Homo sapiens: one gene and its partners. The protein of the gene in region 4 interacts with the protein of the main gene of each other region in a biochemical or structural test. Each region holds a gene or a part of one and is shown on either strand. Other genes may lie near its edges. The genes, in order: HNRNPAB, ADAR, HNRNPC, ERG, TOP2B, HNRNPUL1 and DDX23.

What was found.
Region 1: the proteins of ERG (region 4) and HNRNPAB form a complex in vitro, tested with the Homo sapiens proteins (one large-scale study listed by BioGRID).
Region 2: the proteins of ERG (region 4) and ADAR form a complex in vitro, tested with the Homo sapiens proteins (one large-scale study listed by BioGRID).
Region 3: the proteins of ERG (region 4) and HNRNPC form a complex in vitro, tested with the Homo sapiens proteins (one large-scale study listed by BioGRID).
Region 5: the proteins of ERG (region 4) and TOP2B form a complex in vitro, tested with the Homo sapiens proteins (one large-scale study listed by BioGRID).
Region 6: the proteins of ERG (region 4) and HNRNPUL1 form a complex in vitro, tested with the Homo sapiens proteins (one large-scale study listed by BioGRID).
Region 7: the proteins of ERG (region 4) and DDX23 form a complex in vitro, tested with the Homo sapiens proteins (one large-scale study listed by BioGRID).

Annotation. Positions count from the first base shown.
Region 1 is NC_000005.10:178,207,533-178,211,663, reverse strand, and holds the end of HNRNPAB (heterogeneous nuclear ribonucleoprotein A/B), read right to left. Parts: exon of another isoform or gene 3,383-4,131; intron 3,194-3,382; exon of another isoform or gene 2,749-3,193; intron 2,335-2,748; coding exon 2,217-2,334; intron 1,533-2,216; coding exon 1,392-1,532; intron 1,112-1,391; coding exon 1,041-1,111; 3' UTR 501-1,040; downstream 1-500. UniProt on the Homo sapiens protein: Binds single-stranded RNA. Has a high affinity for G-rich and U-rich regions of hnRNA. Also binds to APOB mRNA transcripts around the RNA editing site.
Region 2 is NC_000001.11:154,601,687-154,605,186, reverse strand, and holds part of ADAR (double-stranded RNA-specific adenosine deaminase), read left to right. Parts: intron 1-2,560; coding exon 2,561-3,500. UniProt on the Homo sapiens protein: Catalyzes the hydrolytic deamination of adenosine to inosine in double-stranded RNA (dsRNA) referred to as A-to-I RNA editing.
Region 3 is NC_000014.9:21,262,943-21,266,442, forward strand, and holds part of HNRNPC (heterogeneous nuclear ribonucleoproteins C1/C2), read right to left. Parts: exon of another isoform or gene 3,451-3,500; intron 2,607-3,450; exon of another isoform or gene 395-2,606; 5' UTR 369-394; exon of another isoform or gene 1-368. UniProt on the Homo sapiens protein: Binds pre-mRNA and nucleates the assembly of 40S hnRNP particles. Interacts with poly-U tracts in the 3'-UTR or 5'-UTR of mRNA and modulates the stability and the level of translation of bound mRNA molecules. Single HNRNPC tetramers bind 230-240 nucleotides.
Region 4 is NC_000021.9:38,488,478-38,491,977, forward strand, and holds part of ERG (transcriptional regulator ERG), read right to left. Parts: intron 1-3,500. UniProt on the Homo sapiens protein: Transcriptional regulator. May participate in transcriptional regulation through the recruitment of SETDB1 histone methyltransferase and subsequent modification of local chromatin structure.
Region 5 is NC_000003.12:25,658,408-25,661,907, forward strand, and holds part of TOP2B (DNA topoisomerase 2-beta), read right to left. Parts: intron 1-3,500. UniProt on the Homo sapiens protein: Key decatenating enzyme that alters DNA topology by binding to two double-stranded DNA molecules, generating a double-stranded break in one of the strands, passing the intact strand through the broken strand, and religating the broken strand.
Region 6 is NC_000019.10:41,302,372-41,305,329, reverse strand, and holds part of HNRNPUL1 (heterogeneous nuclear ribonucleoprotein U-like protein 1), read right to left. Parts: intron 2,666-2,958; coding exon 2,381-2,665; intron 1,359-2,380; coding exon 1,069-1,358; intron 1-1,068.
Region 7 is NC_000012.12:48,842,164-48,845,663, forward strand, and holds part of DDX23 (probable ATP-dependent RNA helicase DDX23), read right to left. Parts: coding exon 3,411-3,500; intron 1,888-3,410; coding exon 1,777-1,887; intron 1-1,776. UniProt on the Homo sapiens protein: Involved in pre-mRNA splicing and its phosphorylated form (by SRPK2) is required for spliceosomal B complex formation.

The DNA of each region.
Region 1 (4,131 bases), on a different chromosome or scaffold from region 4:
CGTGGAACCCCAACCCACCCTTGCCTCTTGTAACCACCTAGTCTTATGCCCTAAATACCAGACCTGGAGTTGGGCTCCAATCCAGCCAATAAACATCCCCTGCCAGAGCAGGCTTTTCTTCACCAGCCAGGAGGAGCACTATTGTGCCCCAATTCAGACGGCCCTGGCACTGCCCTAGTGTGTAAAGAATCCCATTTTTTCATTCATCAGCCAAGAAGGTTGGTGTTCCAAGGTGTCCCAGGAGGGGACATGCCTGCTGGGGATGTAAGCCCTCATCACTGCCCCATCCTCACTCCCCATAGGCCTCTCATTCCTTTCTTTGAAGGGGGGCTCAGCCCTAGGCAGGGCAGTCCTTAAAGGATACCCCCACAACTGGGCCTGCAGCTGGAAGAGCCTGCTGCAGGAGAAAGCCCCAAGTCCAGGGCACCTGGCACCCCCCCCCCGCCTCCCTCGACCCTGAGCAAGAGGTCTCACACAGCATATCCCACACTCACCCAGGCTTGGGGGTTTTTAAATTTTATTTCAAAAGCTTGGATAGCTTCAATATCCAGGTTGTGGCAAAATCAGGACACGTGTAAAATACCTTACAATACATTAGATTCCCAAAAGGTACCAAAAAGTACAGTAAAATTAACACTTCCGTTACAGGAAATGTATGACGCAAATAATATAAAATTAAAAGGTGAAAAAAAGGTGACACTGGTTTCCTAAGATACAATTTACTCTTTACAACCAGGGTCCACAGGTCCAGGCTGCAGAGCGGCAGCAGGAAGCAGAGCCTCCCACCTGCTTCTGGGGGACCTGGTAATAAAAATCAGCCCATGATGGCGCTATGGCCTCTCAGACACCACACGCTGCCTAAACACCTAGAGCTCTGGAAATAGTCAACAGGAGAGTGATTTCCATGGGGGAAATTTTAAATAAGATGCACATGGGACAGGCAATAGAAAGTTTGCCAAGTTAAATTTGGTACATAATTGTGTTCACTCCATATCCAAACAAAGCATGTGTGCGATCAGTTGGTCGCTCCTGCTGCCGCCTCAGTATGGCTTGTAGTTATTCTGATGGCCACCACGTCGCTGGCTCTTGCCGTAGTTTGTACTACCCTGACCTAGGGACGAGAACAACCATAGCAGCTACTATTTACAAGCATTTGCCCTGTGCCACGCGCTTGATATGCATCTTCCCAGGACCCTCACCAGCCGTGACAGCAGAGACTGCCTTCCTCATGTTATTAAGACCCCGAAGTCTAAGGCTCAAAATCAAGTAGCTCCCATGGCTGAGCCAGGCCTGTCTGACTCCAAAGCCCCTGCTGCCAGTGGCTCCTACACTGTCCTGCCTCCCCTGGGGACGAGGGGTGAGCGGATGGGGCCTCCCTCTCTCCTACTTACTGTAGTCGTAGCCGGGGCCGTAGCCGTAATAGCCATAGGGCGAGTAGTCGTAGCCGCCATAGCCAGGCCCGTAGCCCTGCTGGTAGCCGTAGCCCTGGTTCCAGTAGTTGCCGTAGCCCTGATTCCAACTCTGACTCTGACCTGTGGGGGGAGCAGGGCACAGGGGCCCGTGGACCATTTAGCATACGCAGGAGCTAGGATGGAGGAAATCCTGCCCTTTGGGGTGGCAGGGTTACTGTGGCAACTCAGGCAGAAGCCAAGGGGCTGCTGTTCTGGTGTATAAGGGCCCTGGGCCCAACCCTGCATCTGAGAGACCCAAGCAGAGGATCAGAGACCAGGATGCTAACTTTACTTGGGGCAAACAAGGCAGCTCACTCACTCAGTCACTCTCTGATCACTCCCACTCTCCTTGGCAGCTTAGCCTTTAAAAAGATGCAGTTCAGGCTTTGGAGTCAGAGGGGCCTGGGATGGAAGGGGATAAATGCCTGGCACAGCTCTGCCCTACCCACCCTTCTGCCTACCTGCTCACAGGTGTACCAGACTCAGGACATCCACAAAGCCAAGACACCCATCACATCCCCTCCCCCAGAGTGTAACACAAATGCTCTCTCTGCCCTGGGCACCCAAGCCATTCCAAGGGGCAGCAGCAGGCAACAGCCTCAAGCATACAGCCCTGACCCAGAGCCGTTCCTATTCCTGTTCGTCCCCAACCTCACACAATCTGCCCACCCCTGCTGCACAGCACCAGAGGGAGCCCCAAGACAGGCTTGGAAGGCTCCATGTAGGCAGGGAAACAGGACCTATCTTCATCCACGTTCCACTCACCTCCACCTCCACCACCACCTCCGCTGCCTCGGTTCCCTCGGTTGCGGTTTCCACGGCCCCCAGAGCCATACTGCTGCTGCTGATAGACTTCTTTGGGCTGGGCCACCTTGATCTCACACTAAAAGTCAAGAGGACAGTGGTCAGGCCAGTAGGACAAACTCAGGGCAGTGACTGCCCAAACACCTTCACTGCGACAAACATCAAATGGTGGATCAGGTCCATTTGCTGAGAAACAAAATATGCTAGTATGGGAGGCCACCTTTGGGCTAAAGCTCATGGAATCCCAACTAAAACCAAAGGCCTTCCAGCAGAGAACCCTTCCGACAGAATGCACTTGAGATGGGCATCTCAGCCCCAGAGCAACTCCGTATCTAATGGAGGCAGGCAACTGGGCCAACTGCAGCCCAGGGGAGCAGAGGACAGGCTGGGACCAGGCACCACACCTTGGTCCTGCTGGGCTAGAGGGTCAGACAAGACTTCTCAGATGAGGGGCCTTAGACAATGAGGTTTTAACATCTTTTTCTCTTTACAGAAGAAACTCATCTCATCCAAATACACGCTATTGAGAAGGCGAGCCTGACCTCCCTCTTACAGATAAAGTCAGCTTTCAGAGGCTCAGGGTGGGGGGGCCTGCCCGAGGCCATAATGCTACCCACCCCCTCCTCCTAACCACTGGTCTGTTGGAATAACCCAGATGTCTGCATCCCCTCAAGTCAGTCAATTTCCTTTCTGTCCACTGGGGGTGGAATGGGGTAGGGTGGGATACTTTAAAGTGCTCCTGCTTAAATAAATTAGACCAGACCAGTGTATTTCTAAAGAAAATCCTGACATGCACACCCATTAAAAATAGTACATTTTACAGTGTCCCAGTCATACTTTTAATTGGCAAATTAAAATAATGCAATCTGATATATTCTATCCTACTAAATTAAAAATACTGAATATAACCAACTAAATATACTTACTCCTAAGACTCACTACCAGTAGTTTCACTTAAACTCTGCCTTAGAGGCTCTTCCCACCCATTTCCCATTATGGCACATAGAGAAAAAGGCCTCTATCACTGTCCACTGGAGTAATAACCACTGCTTCCCCTAACTGCCTCAAAGACTGTCATTTTATAGAAAATTTAAGACTATCCTAATCCACTCTTTCCAAACTCCCAGCCAGGATAGAGACTTCCAGGAGTTCCACCTGTCCCACCTTATCTGGCTGCCAACTCCTGCTCAGAAACAGAACCTGCCACACCCTGCCACTGCAGGCCGCACCCTCAACTCCCAACTGCCAACTTGAAGCCTGAACTACCCTTTCCCTGACCAGAGTTCAGGAGGGGAAGAGCTACACCTCCCTGCACATGAATCCACTCATTTGAAAGCACAACTGACCCTGGATTTAAGCTGGCCAGGACCCTGGGAGATCTTTGGAAGGATTTTTGCCTGGGTTTAGGGTTAACTTAAAGAGGTGCCCAGAAGACCAAGTGAGGCAGTTCATGCCTGTAATCCCAACACTTTACAAGGCCAAGGCAGAGGATGGCTTGAGCCCAGGCAACATGGTGAGACCAGGCTTTAAAAAAACATATGAGCCAGGCATGGTGGTACATGCCTGTGGTCCCAGCTACTCGAGAGGCTGAGATGGGAGGATCCGGTCCGCCCATGAGGTCAAGGTTGCAGTGAGCCATGATTGTGTTACCGCACCCCAGCCTGGACAACAAAGCAAGACTCTGTCTCAAAGCAAAAAAAAAAAAAAAAAAAAAAAAGTGCTCAAAGTGGATGGAAGTGGACAAAGACTTGGTTGTAGAAGGAGGTAGAAAGGCTCTGGAATAAGAAAAACTTCACCACAGAGGAGAATCAGTGAGTTGCAGAAGTTCTAGGATCTTCTGAGACCTTAAACTGCAGGCTTCATACCCCTGGACTCA
Region 2 (3,500 bases), on a different chromosome or scaffold from region 4:
AATGAGGGGCTGGAACTGGAAGAAAACACATTTAAGACACAGTACAGAGGTGGCAGACAAGGTGGGACTTGGCAACTACCTGATGAGATCCAGGAGATGAGGCCAGGAGGCGGGCAGCAAAGATGACGCAGGTTTCTAGCCTTAATAGGCTAGGAGGAGAGTGATGCCATTAGCAATAAGAACTACAGGAGAAGGAGCTGAGTTTGAGGGAACTATTAATTTGGTTCAGAATATGTGCTGTTTGAGTTATGGCAGGATATTTAAGTGGACAGACTGTCGACATAGTTGGAAATTCAGATCTTAAGCTCCCACACAAGGTAGTGGCTGGACATAGTAGATTTGAGTGCTCTTGCTTCAGAGGGCTAGTTTAGGTTGGGGCAGTGATTAAAGCAACCTAGGAAATAAATTATAAAGGAAGAAGAGGTCCTTAAAACCTTGGAGACTGATTATATAAAGGGTGGATCCGTTAATACAGTAGCTATTAAAAAATTATAAGGGGTGGGAAAAAGGGACAAAGAAGAAAAAAGAGGTGAAAGACCTTTGCTGTGTCACCAAACCCTGGGAGGAGAATTTTTTAAAAGAAGAGTACTCAATCCACAGTGAACTAAGGCATGTTTGTTAAACACAATTGACCACCACACAGCGAAGACCCAAATGAGGTTCAAGAGAAGGAATTTTTATGGACCCTGTTAGCACAAGTCAAGGTCCTTCTCCAGTACCACTGGGAAGCTTTGGAGAAGAAAAGGGGGACAGTGGGCCTTGGGTGGAGAAGGGAACTGACCATGAGATCCAGGTGGGGTGAGGAGGTGTGTGAAGTCAGAGTGGGGAAGAATCAGGGTGGCTTACTGGCAGCTTCACCGGGGTCATGCGAGGAGCAGGTTCCACCAGAGTAAGGAGTGAAGTTGTAGAAACACAGGGAAGTCACCATCAGAAAAGAGCAGGAGTCAAGAAACTATGGCCCACAGGTACAAACTACCTGTTTTTATAAATAAAGCTTCATGGTAAATGAATTGTAAATAAAGTTTTGCATATTGTGTGAGGCTGTTTTTGTGCTACAGTGGCAGAGCTGTCTGGCCCTTTATAGAAAAAGTTTATCAGCCACTGGAAAAGAGTTGCAGGATTTGAGGTCTTGGTGTGATGGCCTAGGTTAGAGTCATAGTGAGATTGAAGGAGTAGCTAGACAAGCCAATTGTGTGGCAGAAAGGTAGGGATGGAGATCACTGGGTTAAGGATCCTTGTAGCCAGGACACCATGAGAGTGATTGACAAGAATGCTGAAATCCCCTAAGTGTGTCAGGATGTGGAAGAGTAGAAGGCTAGAGTTATGGAAGAAAGGGTCCCACCTCTACCTGTGCAGCCTCCAGGAGAGTCTGAGGAGGGGGCGGTGAGTGTGAGTAAATGTTGTCAGAATCCCTCCTCCCAGTCTACAAGCCCCAGGGAAAGGAAGCAAGGTGTTTACTGACACCCCCAGGCTTATAAGTACTTCCTGGCTCCATCACCCTCCAGTGAACAGCCCTGGGGAGAAGACAGTACTGGTTTGCAGGTGGGTGGGTGGGGAAAGGGGTCACAGGTGCTTGGTGTTCTGGTAAATGTGCATATGAGAACATGGGGTTGCTTGTGCCCTGTCCGTCAGGGTTCAGAAGAACGTGCAGTGGAAGCAGCTATGGGGAAGTAGCTAGGGAAGGTAGGACTGGTCTGAGGTGGTGAGGAGCAGATGCTGCCAGCTCCACACATCCAGGAGAGCCTGGGTGGTTTGGGCAAAAGTCTCTGGCATCCCTTCTGAGCCTGGGTACCACACTGAAGAGTGAGGACAGTGTGCCATTTTTATCAGGAAACCCTCCAGCTCCCTGAAGACCAAATTCTGATCCTCCTGGGATGGCAGTGAAGAGCCACAGAGATGACTCTGAGGTCCCGTGGCCTTTTCCCACCTGGAGATTGTTTTCGTTACTGCGCTGTTACAGCCTTGGAGGACTGGGGTTCAGTTTCATCCAATCACATTTCTTCTTTTGTCATAGTCATCTAAACGATAGATCTTAGAGACAGGTGGGCAAGGGGTGCACTGGTGAGCCTGACTTAAGGAGAGGTCATCTCGTCCCTTCCCTAGTCCCATCTCCCTTGGTTATTGTTATTTCATGTGATTGTTCTGGTTATTTCAGGTTATTCTGTTTTTGTTTTCAAAACAATAACATATATTTGTTGTTCTGATTTTAAAGGGGTAATTGTTTTGGTAACTAGAAAATTACCTTCTCAACTCCCTTAAATTCTGTCAAAGGGAAAAGTAAGTTAGGTTGCTGGAGAGGCTATGCTGAGGCCTCAGAACCTCTGTATTCCTGGAAGTTCTGCGTGCTTTGCCTCCTGCTCCCCTCTCTGTGTTCCTGTTGGCAGGCCCCTAGGCAGGATTTAGGAGGTAGGCAAGTCACCCTAGCCAAGTCATAAGCCCATGGCTCAATTGCCTTCTCAGCCCTTCAAGGGCTGTTCCACAGGCAGCAAAGGGAGGGGCCTCCACAGGTTCACCACTGCAGCCCTAATTCATTTTCTTTTTCCACTGTCTTATTCTGCAGGGGTATTCCCTCAGCGGATACTACACCCATCCATTTCAAGGCTATGAGCACAGACAGCTCAGGTACCAGCAGCCTGGGCCAGGATCTTCCCCCAGTAGTTTCCTGCTTAAGCAAATAGAATTTCTCAAGGGGCAGCTCCCAGAAGCACCGGTGATTGGAAAGCAGACACCGTCACTGCCACCTTCCCTCCCAGGACTCCGGCCAAGGTTTCCAGTACTACTTGCCTCCAGTACCAGAGGCAGGCAAGTGGACATCAGGGGTGTCCCCAGGGGCGTGCATCTCAGAAGTCAGGGGCTCCAGAGAGGGTTCCAGCATCCTTCACCACGTGGCAGGAGTCTGCCACAGAGAGGTGTTGATTGCCTTTCCTCACATTTCCAGGAACTGAGTATCTACCAAGATCAGGAACAAAGGATCTTAAAGTTCCTGGAAGAGCTTGGGGAAGGGAAGGCCACCACAGCACATGATCTGTCTGGGAAACTTGGGACTCCGAAGAAAGAAATCAATCGAGTTTTATACTCCCTGGCAAAGAAGGGCAAGCTACAGAAAGAGGCAGGAACACCCCCTTTGTGGAAAATCGCGGTCTCCACTCAGGCTTGGAACCAGCACAGCGGAGTGGTAAGACCAGACGGTCATAGCCAAGGAGCCCCAAACTCAGACCCGAGTTTGGAACCGGAAGACAGAAACTCCACATCTGTCTCAGAAGATCTTCTTGAGCCTTTTATTGCAGTCTCAGCTCAGGCTTGGAACCAGCACAGCGGAGTGGTAAGACCAGACAGTCATAGCCAAGGATCCCCAAACTCAGACCCAGGTTTGGAACCTGAAGACAGCAACTCCACATCTGCCTTGGAAGATCCTCTTGAGTTTTTAGACATGGCCGAGATCAAGGAGAAAATCTGCGACTATCTCTTCAATGTGTCTGACTCCTCTGCCCTGAATTTGG
Region 3 (3,500 bases), on a different chromosome or scaffold from region 4:
GAAAAATAAGGTCATAGACTTAACAGCCAGTAAAATTCTTTTCAGTGTGGGGAAGGGGATGAGGGCAAGGGTGGGGTTGGGAGAGAAAAGGTTTACGTGATCAAACCACTTAAAAATACTAATGCCTTCGCTTTCTCTCCCAAGATGCAAAACTCCAAAGTCAATCAGGAGGCCGGAGAAATTCTTAGAAACATTCAGAAAAACTCGATTTTAATCCGGTTAAAAATCATCAGTGTCATTATCATCATCATCATCACCATCATAAGTATTAATATAATAATAATAAGTAATAGTAACTAGTAACAACAATAAAAAGGAAATCAGCGGAAAGTCAGGAAAAATGTTAAAAAAAAATTGGAATAACTTACTGTAGCTGAAGATCAAAAAAATCTCACTGTAAAAAAACAAAAATAAAAATAGCCCAGATTAGAAAAACGGGAGGTGCAAAAATGTCAAGTCAGTAAAGTTCATTTCTTTTCTCTTTCCAAAAGCAGTTTCCACAAAAACCGCAAGGATAAAGTTTTCAGTAGCAGACAAGCAAAGCCCTTTCCACATCATCAATCAATCTTAAAAATACACGAGGAAGTAGAGAGGTCAGTTTATGAGAGGCTAAAAGGCTCCTCCTCCTCTAACCCAACTGCTGCAGAAAAAATAGAAATAGAAATTTTAAAAATTACATCTTAAATCCAGGTCCCGGTTTTGGAAACAATTAAAAAAAAAACACCTGTACATTTGCTGTAGTGCACACCAAGTTGCATCATTATGTTTAAAATGTCTTTATAAAATCAGTTTTGGAATGGAATGTGTGTGTTCTGGAAGGGTGGGGAAGGGAGGTTAAAAATCAAAGCTGAGCTCCAGTGAGTAGGGATGGGGTTCGCCTTGCTGCCCTGTGAAAGGAGAAGGGACAGATTGAGTCAGAGTTCCTCAGAAATGTTGTGCCCTAAACCCCCAAGACAGAAACATCTGTCTACTGCAGCTAACACATTTTGGTAAAGCATTAACATTCCACTGGGATGGGATAGCCTCCATAGAATCACCTCTACCAGTGACTGTCTTCACAATTCTTCAACATCAATAGATGACTAAAATTAACTAAATTCATGTCAATATGCCCTTGAGGGTCTCAAAAAGAGTATATCCCAAATGTTCATCTTGATAATGAGCAGTTTGGGCAAAGAAAATACAGAAAAACCGGGCCAACAAATAGAGATGAAATAGTGAGCAAATGTCAAATACTGAGATTATAAAACCTAAGCAGATTCATGGGTTTTAAACTTAAAAAAGTCCGTGGAGTTTTTGCTATGAGTAATAGACTGAAGGTGAATGGCCTACCATGAAGATCTATACTAGAGATGACTCATCTATTCTCAAAACCAGTGAGTGATCAAACCACAAGACCTAATAGGTTCTACTGTTAGGGGAAAAGATGTTTTAAATAAGGAGCACATTATTCCACTCACTGACAAAACGAAAATACAGATGGAATTAAAAAAATACTGAATATTTAAGGTCATAAAATAGGTGAAAAAAATTAAGGTCCTTATGTTAATACTTTTGTTTCTGTAGTCCACTATTTACTATGTAGCGTGTAAAGCTAATTTCAAGTTATGGATTCTAAAAATCTGGTACATAATACCACACTAAAATAATTTCCATGACAAACTGGTTGTTTCATCAGCTAAAATAGGAACTGCAATTAGACTGTAGTTCCTTGTGCAAACAATGAACTAGCTGCACTCACTGTTCAATTTAGCCATGAGGTCTTATTCTCCTTTGTAAATTTGAGGAAATTAAAATATTTTAAGGCCAAGTGTGGTGGCTCACACCTGTAATCCCAACACTTTGGGAGGCCAGGGTAGAGCACGGCTTGAGCTCAGTAGTTTGAGACCAGCCTGGGAAACATGACGAGACTTTATTAAAAACAAAAAACATTAGCAGGGTGTGGTAGCCTGAAATCCCAGCTACTTAGCAGTCTGAGGAGCGAGGATCACTTGAGCCCAGGAGTTCGAGGCTGCAGTGAGCTCTGATCACGCCACTGCACTTCAGCCAGGCCAGAGAGAGACCCTGTCTCAAAAAAAAAATTTTTAATTGAGCTTTTAGAAGTGTTCCTTGAGCCAACTATACATGAATGACTACAGCAGCAACAAGTACCATACATTTTTAAAAAGAACAGTGTAGGAATGACAGTTAATTTTTACATTTGATGTGTGAAAACTGTATGAATGTACAAATTGCGGAAAAAGTTTGTGAAGAATTGTAAGAAATATACATCTGAATGTTCTTTTCCTGTTTATGAAATACAGTTATGGTGAAACATTTCATTTTCTTATTTGGAGCCACAGCCCAAACCTGGTAATCAATTTTCAAGATACATAACTTTATAGCTCAACCACAACCAAGTCCTTTGTACAGGTGCCACAAGACATAAGCTTAAAAATAAAGAAAAATGTGAAAAGAAACCAATTCTATCTTTCAATATCAAAAAGCTCAGTATCTCCCAAGATGTTATTTATGTTAAACTGAAGAGCTACCACTCATAAAAAGACCAACTTTAGCACCATTTTCAATCAAGAATATTCCTTGAGGCCAGGCGGCGTGGCTCACACCTGTAATCCCAGCACTCTGGGAGGCTTGGGGCGGGTGGATCACCTGAGCTCAGGAATTCAAGGCCAGCCTGGCAACATGGCGAAACCCTGCCTCTACCAAAAATACAAAAAATTAGCAGCACTACTCAGCAGGCTGAGGGCACCCCTTGAGCCCGGGAGGCAGAGGGTGCAGTGAGCTGAGATGACACTACTGCACTCTAATCTGGGTGACAGTGTGAGGCTCTCAAAGAAAAAAAGTATCCTTACCTAAAGCTCAGAGATAGTTTTAGAAAAAAAGTATCTCTAGGTTATTCTTTGTCAAAACCTGCCTGAGGTTTGGATCCCTTCTTCTAAAGGGGCACCTCTCAGAATGAGTGATGCATGAGCATCATCACCTGGAACTTACTAGAAGTGCAAACTCTCAGGGCCCACCCCAGACTTACTTAATTAGAAACCCTTGTGGTAGAGATCATAGCAATCTGTTTTAACTAGCCCTATTGATTCTGGTGTTGGCTAACGTTTGAGAACCACTGTGAAGATTTTAAATTGGGAATCTCTCTATTCCCCAGTTTAGAATCAATTATTATCATTTTTTTGAGATGGGGTCTCACTCTGTCGCCCAGGCTGGAGTGCAGTGGTGCGATGGCTCACTGCAACCTCCACCTCCCAGGTTCAAGCGATTCTCCTGCCTCAGCCTCCCGAGTAGCTGGGACTACAGGCGAGCGCCAGCACGCCAAGCTAATTTTATTTTCAGTAGAGATGGGGGTTTCACCATGTTGGCCAGGCTGGTCTCAAACTCCTGACCTCGTGATCCACCCGCCTCAGCCTCCCAAAGTGCTGGGATTACAGGCATGAGCAGCCACACCCGGCCTTAGAATCAATTCTTTAAACAAAATGCCTGACCTTCCAGTGTAC
Region 4 (3,500 bases):
CATCCTGTAGATGGCTAATTGATGATGCCCTATTGTTTAGTGTGTGTGCACTGTGGTTTTATTTGCTTCGGTTCAAAGGGCCTAAACAATGCATTCGTTGGAATTTAGTAACTGCTGTAAAATCAGCACAGAGAACAATCTGTGAGCTGATATTTTTTGTACCCAAATCTGGTAATCTCTGCTTGACTAAAGAAAGCAAAATCTAAAATGACCTTTCAACTAACCATAGAAAAGGCCTTCCATTGAATCTCAAAGAGACTTATTTTTCTACCAAATATAAAAACATTCGAATTATGCATCATTTTCCATGATTCAAAGGAGACAGAGGTGCCTACGGGGCATGTTACTCATAGACAAGTCTATTCTAGTCTAATCACGTCCCCTTAAAAATCACCGAGTAGATGACACCGAGGATGAGAACGAGGTACTGTAATCATTACTTTAGAAACTTTATATTTTTACCTGTTTCAAGACAGAATTCTCCTAGAAAATCTGGAGCAACAAGCTTATTCCCCTTGGAGAGGAGATAACGAATAATGGACCACGCATTCGGAGAGAGGAAGTTTCCACTGGGAGCCCTTCCTGCATCAGTGCGTCTCTGGTTGGGCTGGCTATCTGTGTAGGAAGTGAACGCAGGAAGTATCTGTCTACAAACCCTTTATCCTCAAGGTAATTGCTGTAGCAGCATTTTACTGTTTACCAAAGCAGTAAACATGTGATCTAAAAAAAGATGTTTTCCATCTCCAGAAGAACAAGGCTTTAAAAAATGTATACATGTGCTTATTTTGTAACCAGCTTATCAAAATTGGTTACAATAGGCTTGGGCTTTCAACAGTGAGTCCATGAAAACAGCTCTTGGGATGGACAGAGGTACCCTCACAGGGATGCACAAGAAACAAAGAAGTGGCTTCCTTCACTAGAATGCTATCCTAGCAACACACATTTTATGTCTTTTCTCCTAAGACCGGCTTAACCGAGTTCATACTGTTTGGCTTACAAAGAAGGTAAAGTCAACAAAACTATCTATGTTAATTCAGGTTGGTAGAATGAGTAATTCACAAAGTCCAATAACTCATAAAAGTCACTTACATTTGGCCTTGGACAATATTCTTATTTTTACGTGACTATAAATATGCTTCCAGTTTAGGAGTTCACACAAGACAAAGTGAAAAGTTAGAACTCAAAAGGAGATGTGTAGTGGCTGCTTTTGCTGACTTTTGCCTGGCGTAGGCCAAGCCTCCTGGTCCGTCTTTTCCTTTGTTTCTTTATTCCAGATCAAGCTTGCAAACCTGCACCGTCCCAGATTTCCTGGGGTAAGAGAAGTGATTGTCTAGGAGAGGCAGCTTGGAATGAATAAAAACAGGTCCAGGAAGGATCCCTCAGCATTTAAGAGGCTCAGGAGGGGTCCCCCTCATCATCCTTGTTGTCTTTTGTGTTTTTCAAGCCGCCTTCCAGGTGGATAGCGATTGCAATGAGAGAGAAAGAGTATGGAAGGAGAATAAGAAGAATAGGGAGACACAGAAGTTAACAACGCCCTGAATGTCTCCTTCCAGGACCTGCTGTGCAGTGTCCGGTGAACTCACCAGCAAGCATTTCCCAGCCCTGTTTTAAGCAATCTCCAATGCAGATCAGGTGCTCGTGAATAATTGGGAGCTCACTGTGTCTGTCAGAGTTCTTACTTTATAATGAAGAGATAAAAACATGTTCATCACAGGAAAATGGACAAATTGGCTAATTGAAAACAAAATTCAATTCACAAACTGTTGTAGAAATTGAAAAAAAAAAGGTAGGGGGAAATGCTTTTCATAGATTCCCTGATTTTAGTCTTAGAAGAAAAATGTATTTGGCTTGAATGAATAGTAAAATTAACTAACTTTGATTGAGGAGCTTATGTGTGCCATATACAGTTCTGGGCTCTTGCGACTTGGTGAATCTCACTATAACCCTGTGAAGTAGGAACTATCACTCTACCCATTTCACCGATGGAAAAGCCTATCTCCTGTGAGGCTGTGGCTTGCCAAAGGTGAAATGGCCAGGAAGTAGAACAGCCAGGGAGTGAACCCCAAAAGCCAGGTGGGAGCCCATTTCCCCTGCCCACTGCACGAGACCCCTCCCCGGTTTGAAGATCCGATAGGGGCACTGCTGTTAGCTCCCCCTGCGTCCTGGCAGCAGCACAGTCAGCAGATGGTCACTGTGGAGAAGGCGGAGCTGACCACCTCCATTTTCCTATAAGGGAGCTAGGGCCAGGAGAGGTGCGTTCACCTGGGGAAGTCCTGCAGCATCAAACTAAAGCTCCGGGCCACCCTCTCCCAGATGGGCCTCTTTCCACTTCCCCTTGCCAGCAGCTATATCTATGCCTCCCATCCGTTGCACGGAAGATAAGGCCAATCCCTTTTCCACAGAGGCTATTTTAAGGATGCCACGAAGAAATACAGAGTACCAAGTGCCTCCCTGGGCCAAAGATAAAAGTGGGCTGTGCTCTCTGGATTCAACCTTCATGTTTTTGATGCTCTCTGGAAGGTCAGGGAAGGCACACATATCGTATGGATCCAAAGAGGACTACGCAATGCAAAACCACATACTTTTTTTTTCTTTTTAACTTGGAGCAATGTCTTGGGACATCTACCTCAAATTGAGACACAAACTAATTGTGTTGACAGATTCTAAAGTGTTGTTTCAACAGTTTCTTCTTCCTCAAAGGTGAGCATCATGTGCACACTGTCAAAATTAAAAAAAAAAAAAAAAAGACCCAATAAAACCCGATGAAACCCAAAGAGCATGGAGATGAGAAACTCACTGCTGGCTGACGATCTGAATGAATGGCCTTGGGGGGAATGTGAATGTGGAGGTAGCAGAAGGGTCCTGTCTTCAGTGCTGATTCTGTATCAATACTTGGTAAATTTAAAAAACAAAAAAACCAGCAAGGGAGATTTTAAATCATCAAGGCAGAAGGATTTAAAAAGTGGAATGTGTTAAATGCAAGAGTGCGGGATCTTTGCATAAAGTTATTATATTTTCAAAAATTCGACAAGCATTGTTTTTACCAAACGTGTTTAAAGTAACAGCCCTGAGGTTAATGTTATGATTGGATTCTGATGTGGCACTTTAAAAATAAATCATTTTGCTTGGCCTTAGCATTTCTTTTCAAAATGTCTCTGTACTTATCTGTGTACAACAGCAGATTACCGTTCTTCCCAGAGTTTAATTCCATGAACACCCTGCTGAAAGACTTGTTAAGGCCTTATGGAAAACTCTGACCTGCGTGTTCATTATTGACGCCCAAGACGAGTGCAAGGAAGTTGATACTTGGGATGAGGAAATTTAAATCAGCAGCTGATCTGGAATCTGGAAGCACTGCCCCTTGGATCTCGCCAAATATGGAAAGAATTCTTGTCACTGAGCAAATATAGAATTCAGTGCTAGAGTTTTACCTCTTGAATTTTCTAGAACTTTGTTTTGATTAGCCACCTAGAGTATAAGAATTGCTGCCTATGGGATTT
Region 5 (3,500 bases), on a different chromosome or scaffold from region 4:
AAATTGGAATCTAAAAAATCAAGGCTACATTTTCATTATCATGAAGACAATAAAAGTGTAAAATAATCACCATATTAAATTTCCTACACATATCTAAAAGTTGTTTTAATTATATTCTTTTTCATTTATAAATATGATGATAACATCATTGACTTTTTCTGAATTTCAAGTCAGCTGCCAAATTAAACAAAGCATTTAGGGAAAATTTAAAATTATAACAAAAATACCAAAATAACTATATAGACTATATATTTTAAATATTAACCTATCTTATGGCACTTTTGCAATATTGCTAATGCCTAATAAAAAAACAGATTTAATACTAATCCAAGATTTGATCTTTTTCAAGAACATTTCTCAGTCTTCAGAAGAAAATGGAAAACATTCCAGTAAAACTTCCTATTTTTCAGAACGACTATACACCAAGATCATTCTGCAAAACAAAACAAAAGATTCTTCAATGGACAGAATTGTCACCTGAAATATAGCAATTTGGCAGAAGCACCCAGTTTGTTTTTCTGAGGGAGAATGAATTGCTGACAAACAGGGTAAAGGAGATGGTTTGCCAGTTGGTACTAAAAAAGAACTGAGCCACTCATTCACATAATCAACACAGAAAGCTCACCATCACCAGGCCAACAAGAGTGGAAGTGGGGGCTGGCAGCCTAGCAACGAGCCCCTTCTTTTACCTTCTTCTGTACAATCCCCTCAGACTTAACACCAACCTTTTATAATGTCTCCTCTCTCTTTTCTCCCTCAAGGCTGCCATCCCATGATGTTCATTCTAACCATATTTCACCTATATGTAAATGGAGAGGCCATGTTATCTACCCACCATTAATGAAGCAAAAAGCAACAAACTGTCCCCTGTCTATGCTCCTTCAGAAATACCCTTCTAAACAAAGGGGCAAGGAAGAGATAAGAGATACTTAAGACAGTAACAAATGCTTAGACTTCTGCTATGAAAATAGGCTTTCTCTATAATAAAGGGAATGAAAATACTTATCACTGGATTAAAAAAGAAGGGAGAATGTATGTGTGAACCCATCTGGGAGCTACTATGTGCCAAGCACTACGATAATCTTAATTAATTCTTATATAGTATCTCCATGAAATAGACACTGTTATAATTCCCTTTGTACAGATGAGATAACTAAGGTTGGGATAAGTGTTTTCCCAAAGCTAACAAAACTAGTACTTGACAAAGGTGAATTATGAAACTAGATGATCTGATTTCACAGCCCATACTCTTAGCATTATGCTATACTAAGTACACATATTCTGAAAAGGAAATATACTCCTTAGCTTTTTGTATGAAAGTAAAAGGTTAGTAGAAAAAGACAGGTATATCCCAGATGTCTCCTTATTCTGTCTTATCAGAGTATAAAAGATGAGTTGTTTTGTCTTTCAATGTTTTTAAAGTTGAAGGCTGTGTAAATGTTAAGAACACTGAGTCTGGTTTAAATTCCACCTGTGCCTTAACCATGTGCCTAAGAATTTGTTACCTAATCTCTAAACCCGTTTCCTTCTCTGCAAATAGGAATAACTATAGCTACTTCAACTTTTCGTTAAAATGGGGTTCTATACGTGTTAATACTTTTAAAAATTCAAGAAGTTTATTTTTTAAAGTGTACTCAGTAAAATGCAATTGTTGCCACCACCTAACCAACAAACCTGGGATTACAGGTGAACATACTTCGATTCAGAAAAATTAAGTTTATTAAAAACGTGCCTAAATACTGCTATATCATGTACTTGAGAATGTATCTAAAAAACACTGCTACTTAAACTCTTGTCCTACTAATGACAGAAGACTTTTTAGGAAGTCAGCATGTCAATTATCCAATTTTTAAATAACTGAGACTGGATTACGTATCCAGTTCTTTGTTTAACACTCTGAAGGACATAAACAAGGAAAATACATGCTCTCTAACTTCAGAAATTTGTAATATTAAGGCAAAGTTATCATGCATGAAAGTTACATAAAAAATAAAGACTTCTGTTTTATGATTCATGAGAGTAACAAACATTCAATGAAAGAAAAAGATGAGTATCAACTGGAAAATAATAATGTGACAAGGCTCTGAGCTAGCCCTGAAGAACAGTTAAGATTTAGACTAGTAAAGAGAAGTGAAAAAGTAATTCCAGATGGAAGGCAAATATGTAAAGACAAAGTGACAAAAACAAGCCTAACTTGTGTAGGGGACAGTGAAGAGATAAATCTAACTATGGAGACTATAATAAATAAATTTCATTGGAAAGGGCACATAGTTTATGAAAGTCTGGCTCAGCAATTTAGACTCGCAACAGTAAACCACTAAAGCAAGGTTCTTAAAATAAATCTTTAAACAATATTTAAATACATAGTCATGTTTAATTAGAGATATTCACACTCCAAAAATATGTTATATATTTCAAAAAATGTGACTTTTGAGAAAACTACAATGTTATTTGTGGTTATACAGTTTTTCAAAAAGAGACTTTACTGTTAGAGATAAATACTGAAATATTTACAGAGAAAGTGATAAAATTCTAGGATTTGCTCTGCTTCAAAAGAATGAGAAGGGATAAAGTGGGTGGTCTTAGGTTGATTTTTTTTTTTTTTTTTTTGAGACGGAGTTTCACTCTTGATGCCCAGGCTGGAGTGCAATGGCGTGATCTCGGCTCACCGCAACCTCCGCCTCCAAGGTTCAAGCGATTCTCCTGCCTCAGCCTCCCGAGTAGCTGGGATTACAAGCATGCGCCACCACCCCAGCTAATTTTGTATTTTTAGTAGAGATGGGGTTTCTCCATGTTGGTCAGGCTGGTCATGAACTCCTGACCTCAGGTGATCCGCCTGCCTTGGCCTCCCAAAGTTCTGGGATTACAGGCGTGAGCCACCGCACCCGGCAGGTTGATAATTATTGAAGCTTAAGGCTAAATAGAGGGAAGCTTGTTATACTACTCTGGTTACCACTTTTTGAGATGCTTAACATTTTCCATTAAAAATTTTTTTTAATCTACCAAGTTAGAATATTGTTGGGAAAAAGATTAAGTCATATAACTGTATTCTAGTATTTCCACAAATGTCTTTGTTACAATCACTTATGATACAAGACTGACAGAATGAACCAGACTATTACTATCTACTAATCAAAGCTCTACAAAGAATTAATTCAAGAAACCCTGCTGCCTTAAGAGAAGCCTTTGTAACTGCTATACATTTTAAATCAAAATAGCTTTGCCATGTTTATATTTTTCACTTTTTTTAATTATAAAAAATTCTGGTTGAGATACTCCTACAAATCAAACACAAACCAAATGAATTATTAAAATAAGTTAATGCCAGTCCTAAAACCACTTGGCTTTGTAGTTTCAGATATTGAAAGGCAAATTTTCATGCAATGACATTAACAACACATGCTGGCATGCATCCCAACAGTAGTTAATATCAGCAACACATGGCATACAACTCCTCACCCAGAAGAAAGAAATCAGGGGCTAATTCTATTTTTATTTCT
Region 6 (2,958 bases), on a different chromosome or scaffold from region 4:
TAAGCTTGTGTGTATAAACCACTGGGTACTCAACAGGTGGTGGTAGTTGTTACTGGAAGATCTGCTGAGAAACAGTAGTGGCAATTGACTAAGTGCTTCCCAAGTACAGGTTGGATCATTACATCATATAATCTCCATATAGAACCTAGGGGTAGGTCCCACTAGCCCCATTTTAAAGAGAAAGAAACTGAGGCTCAAGATGAAATTTCTGGGCCAAGGAAAAAGGACTTGACCCCAGGTCTGCCTAGTCCCAGAGCTATAGTGCCACCCATTCCTCACAACAAACCTTGGAAGGGACTTCTACTAACACCTTTATGAGGAAAATGAGGCCCAGAGACGGGAAGCTATTTGTCCAAGCTCACAGAAACAGGATGTTGTGGGGCTGGGGGTTTGGATCTGTGCCTGCCCAACTCTTGTTCTAAGAAATATTCTAGTTAGCTGGGCCTGGGAACCATCCATTGGTCTCCTGGCAGCTGATTCCAGGCCCGGCATGAGGAAAGTGCTTGGGAAATGGCTGTGCGATAACTGAAAACCTCTCTGGTTTACAGGAGCCTGTGCATACCAGAGCCAGGGCACTGGCTTTCCAAGAATGGGAACTGAGCCTGGAGCTGCTCAGGATTGAAGCTCTCTGTGCAGAGGGCAAGTCCTCAGCAACCTTAGTGCCCTGGTTATTATGTCCAAAAGACAAAGAGGTCAGCCAGCCTGGGCAAGGGGTGACTCCAGTCAAGTGCTTTCTTGGGGATTTAGTGAGGTTAGTGACACTAGCCAAGAATAATGTACTTGCTGGAGGGATCAGTGCTTACAGCCCATCCCCTTGAGGGTGGTGGGAGAAGAGCAGGTTCTGGGAAGGTCTACATTTACTCCTGGGTTTGGAGGGGATCTGGGAATGTGTAGGGTCCATCTGAGTCAAGATCACGGCCAGGGAGAAAGAAGGGCAGGCTAGAGGTTAGAGTGAAGACCAGTAGCTGGGGCATGTGTTGATTTCCCCAGATCCGCCTCCACCTAACTTGCTCAGGTTCAAAAGCACACGTGCGATCACTACATACAAACACACACTCATTCTCTCACCTGTGGAGGGCTGTAGCTGCTGACGGTGGGGGTGCTGGTATTGGCGCTTGAGCCAGGGATGTTGCTGTTCTTATTGTAGGTGCTGGCCCCTGGGGGGTTCCGAGCAGGGCTGTAGCTGGGTGGTGGCGGTGGCTGCTGGGGTGGTGGCTGTGGTGGCGGAGGCTGCTGTGGTGGCGGCTGTTGCTGGGGAGCCCGGTTGTAGCTGCCTCTGTTGTTGGAGTTGTTGTTATCCCGGTTGTTGTTACCCCAGCGGTTCTGGCTATAGCCACCACCTCCGCTGCGGTTGAAACCTGTGTTGGAGAAATCCAGATGAAAGGCGCCATCATTCCCAAATGGCAACCCCAGGGAACTGGGTTGTCTTGGTGACTACTGTGAGCCGGCATGGCCAGGCGCAGAGCAAGAACTCAAGGTGAACAACAAAGCATGTCCTCTGGGATTCTCTAGACCCCCGGGCATACTCCCCTGTCCCAGCCCTTATGACAGGTTTGTCTCATTCACTGGACTGCAAGAATGGTGAGGCAGAGACCAAGGCAGTCCTGGGTTTCTGTGTCCCAGCATCTCAATAGCTGTTGAATATGCAGGAAGGAGATGCTCAAGGAGAGGAAGCTGGCAGGGTGCGGTGGCTCACATCTGTAATCCTAGCACTCTGGGAGGCTAAGGCGGGTGGACCACGTGAGGTCAGGAGTTCAAGACCAGCCTGACCAACATGGAGAAACCCCATCTCTACTAAAAATACAAAATTAGCCGGGCGTGGTGGTGCTTGCCTACAATCCCAGCTACTCAGGAGACTGAGGCGAGAGAATCGCTTGAATGCCGGGAGGCAGAGGTTGCAGTGAGCCGAGATTACACCATTGCACTCTAGCCTGGGCAACAAGAGCAAAACTCCGTCTCAAAAAAAAAAAAAAAAAAAATGAGAGGAAGCTAAGCACTGGTGACAGCCATGAACGAGTCACATCTAGTCCTCTTCAGACCTGGCCAAAGATGTAGCCCCCATTTCCAATAGATTTTGATCTAGATCCTATTTCCAAGGAGCTCATGGTCAGATGGGGGAAGGTTCACAAAAATGACAGCAATGTGACAGAATGTGCACTGTGATATGCAAATGGGCAAAGGGCTTCATAACCAGCGTCCAGGGAGTGGGAAAGTGGGAGCGTTTCTGAGGTCTCCGTGTCTGACTTGTTTCAAGTTTTCTACCAGAGTATAACTCACAGCTGGAGCTCAGAAAACTTCAGTTGCTGATTGAATAAGCAGTCAAAGCCCAGCCCCAACCTGGGAACAGAAAGTGGAGAGTGCTGTGTGTGAGATGTCTCACCTCCTCGGTAGTTGCCTCCTCCACCGCTGCCTCCCCCTCGGTTCTGGAAGCCGCCACGGTTGCCTCCAGGGGGTCCTCGGTTTTCATAGCGCTGGAAGCCACCACCACCCCCGCGGCCCCGGAAGCCACCACCACCTCGGTTGTCAAAGCGCTTTTCAGGGGGTGGCCCAGCCTTGCGGCCTTCCTCGTTGTACTGCCTCACTAGCTTGTCCGCTTCCTCCCGCTGCAGCTCAATGAACAGAACCTCATCCAGGAAGTCCCCAACATCTGGCAACGTGAAGTTGGCTAGGAGGAAGGAAGTGCCCCAAAGAGAACAAGAAGAAGAGGTCAGTACCTTCTGAAGTCTGGTCCCCTCCACCCAGAAGAGTGGCCTTCCAGAAGGGAGAAGGTGAAGAAAACTGGAATAGTGAATAAGAAAGACATAGACAGAAGGGCGGGCGCGGTGGCTCACGCCTGTAATCCCAGCACTTTGGGAGGCCGAGGCGGGTGGATCACCTGAGGTCAGGAGTTCAAGACCAGCCTGGCCAACATGGCAAAACCCCATCTCTACTAAAAATACAAAAATTAGCCAGGCATGG
Region 7 (3,500 bases), on a different chromosome or scaffold from region 4:
GGAGGGAGGTGGGGGGGGTTAGCTCCCCACCCGGCCAGCCGCCCCGTCCAGGAGGGAGGTGGGGGGGTCATCCCCCCACCCGGCCAGCCGCCCATCCGGGAGGGAGGTGGGGGGGTCAGCCCCCGGCCCGGCCAGCCGCCCTGTCCGGGAGGTGAGGGGCGCCTCTGCCCGGCCGCCCCTACTGGGAAGTGAGGAGCCTCTCTGCCCAGTCAGCCGCCCCGTCCGGGAAGGAGGTGGGGGAGGTCAGCCCCCCGCCCGGCCAGCCGCCCCATCCGGGAGGGAGGTAGGGGGGTCAGCCCCCCGCCCGGCCAGCCACCCCGTCCGGGAGGAAGGTGGGGGGGTCAGCCCCCCGCCCGGCCAGCCGCCCCGTCCGGGAGGGAGGTGGGGGGGTCAGCCCCCCGCCCGGCCAGCCGCCCCGTCCAGGAGGTGAGGGGCGCCTCTGCCCGGCCGCCCCTACTGGGAAGTGAGGAGCCCCTCTGCCCGGCCAGCCGCCCCGTCCGGGAGGGAGGTGGGGGGGTCAGCCCCCCGCCCGGCCAGCCGCCCCGTCCAGGAGGTGAGGGGCGCCTCTGCCCGGCCGCCCCTACTGGGAAGTGAGGAGCCCCTCTGCCCGCCCACCACCCCGTCTGGGAGGTGTACTCAACAGCTCATTGAGAACGGACCATGATGACAGTGGCGGTTTTGTGGAATAGAAAGGCGGGAAAGGTGGGGAAAAGATTGAGAAATCGGATGGTTGCCGTGTCTGTGTAGAAAGAGGTAGACATGGGAGACTTTTCATTTTGTTCTGTACTAAGAAAAATTCTTCTGCCTTGGGATCCTGTTGATCTGTGACCTTACCCCCAACCCTGTGCTCTCTGAAACATGTGCTGTGTCCACTCAGGGTTGAATGGATTAAGGGTGGTGCAAGATGTGCTTTGTTAAACAGATGCTTGAAGGCAGCATGCTCGTTAAGAGTCATCACCACTCCCTAATCTCAAGTACCCAGGGACACAAACACTGCGGAAGGCCGCAGGGTCCTCTGCCTAGGAAAACCAGAGACCTTTGTTCACTTGTTTATCTGCTGACCTTCCCTCCACTATTGTCCTGTGACCCTGCCAAATCCCCCTCTGCAAGAAACACCCAAGAATGATCAATTAAAAAAAAAAAAACCCAAAAAAAACAAAATCTGGTGGCAGATGCCTGTAGTCCAGCTACTCAGGAGGCTGAGGTGGGTGGATCACCTAAGCCTGGGGGAGTCAAGGCTGCAGTAAGTTGTGATCACACCACTGCACTCCAGCCTGGGCAAAAGAGACCCTGCCTCAAAAAAATAAATAAAAATAAATAAGAAAGAGAGCTCTGTAATAACTACCAACAGAATCTGTTAAGAGAAATCTACTTTCTTTCTTTCTTTTTTTTTTTTTTTTTTTGAGACAGAGTCTTGCTCTGTCGCCCAGGCTGGAGTGCAGTGGCGTGATCTCGACTCACTGCAGGCTCCGCCTCCCGGGTTCACGCCATTCTCCTACCTCAGCCTCCTGAGTAGCTGGGACTACAGGCACCCGCCACCACGCCCGGCTAATTTTTTGTATATTTAGTAGAGACGGGGTTTCACCATGTTAGCCAGGATGGTCTCGATCTCCTGACTTCGTGATCCACCAGCCTCAGCCTCCCAAAGTGCTGGGATTACAGGCGTGAGCCACCACGCCTGGCGAGAAATCTACTTTCATAAGAAGCTGAGCAAACTCAGGTGCAGAGAAGAAATGGGAGCATTCCCCTAAAGCCCCCTCTCATTCCTTCATGTACCTGGATCGTTTACGGTCCTTGTCCCGTCTGTGCCCATCCTTGTCTCGATCTCGGTCCTTCTTATTCCGATCCCGCTCCTTATCTCGTTCTCGTTCTTTGTGCCGTCGTTCTCTGGAAGACCGCAAATTTAAGAGTTCACTTGGTATTTCCAAAGTATCTTGCTTCACTGCAGCCCTGAGAAAGTTCCTATACTCTCGTCCCAAAGTAATGTTTTACAAATTAGAGAATGTATCTCTCACGGAAATAACGAGGGAATTCTAAGAAGCTTTTATAGATCAGAGATGTACTGTTAAATATTAACGGCAATGACAGGTCACGGACTATGTGAACAGATGAACCTTCCTTTTTTATTTTTTTGAGATGGAGTCTCACTCTCACGCCCAGGCTGGAGTGCAGTGGTGTGATCTCGGCTCACTGCAGCCTCTGCCTCCCGAGTTCAAGGAATTGTCATGCCTCAGCCTCCCGAGTAGCTGGGATTACAGATGTGCACCACCATGCCTGGCTAATTTTTGTATTTTTAGTAGAGACGGGGTTTTGCCATGTTGGCCAGGCTGCTCTCAAACTCCTCACCTCAAGTAATCCACCTACCTCGGCCTCCCAAAGTGCTGGGATTATAGGTATGAGCCACCGCGCCCGGCCACAGATGAACCTTCCTTGATAACCCGGACCTTCACCTTACTAGTTCCCTCTCAACTTTTTTTTTTTTTATTTTTAGTAGAGATCAGGTATCACTGTGTTAGCCAGGATGGTCTCGATCTCCTGACCTCGTGATCCACCTGCCTCGGCCTCCCAAAGTGCTGGGATTACAGGCGTGAACCAACCGCGCCCGGCCCCCTCTCAACTTTTAAGAGTTGGGTCACTGAGGAAAACTGAAAACACCTGCAGGTCCAACTGGGCTAGGAGTAGATTAATGTACAAAAAGTAGATGCCTAGCCGGGCGTGGTGGCTCACGCCCGTAATCCCAGCACTTTGGGAAGCTGAGGTGGGTGGATCACCTGAGGTCGGAAGATTGAGATCAGCCTGACCAACGTGGAGAAACCCCGTCTCTACTAAAAGTACAAAATTAGCCAGGTGTGGTGGCACATGCCTGTAATCCCAGCTATTCGGGAGGCTGAGGCAGGAGAATTGCTTGAACCTGGGAGGCAGAGGTTGCAGTGAGCCGAGATCGTGCCATTGCACTCCAGCCTGGGAAACAAGAGTGAAACTCCATCTTTTAAAAAAAAAAAAAAAAAGGCCAGGCGCGGTGGCTCACGCCTATAATCTCAGCACTTGGGGAGGCTGAAGCAGGCAGATCACGTCAGGAGATCGAGACCATCCTGGCTAACACGGTGAAACCTCATCTCTACTAAAAATACAAAAACATTAGCCGGGCATGGTGTCGGGCGCCTGTAGTCCCAGCTACGCACTCAGGAGGCAGAGGCAGGAGAATGGCGTGAACCTGCGAGGCGGAGCTTGCAGTGAGCTGAGATCGCACCACTGCACTCCAGTCTGGGTAACAAACAGAGCGAGACTCTGTCTCAAAAAATAAAAATAAAAAGTAGATGCCTAATACTGGAGGCATCAGAAGAACCAAGAAGGAAGAAATCTGAAACGTACTCTCCCTTCCCATGTAATAACATACAAAGTTACTTTACCTTTCTGCAGATTTGGAACGGGAACGAGAGCGAGAACGGCTGCCTCCTCGACGTCTATCCCTTGAACGATGCCGCTTTCTATCTTTAGAT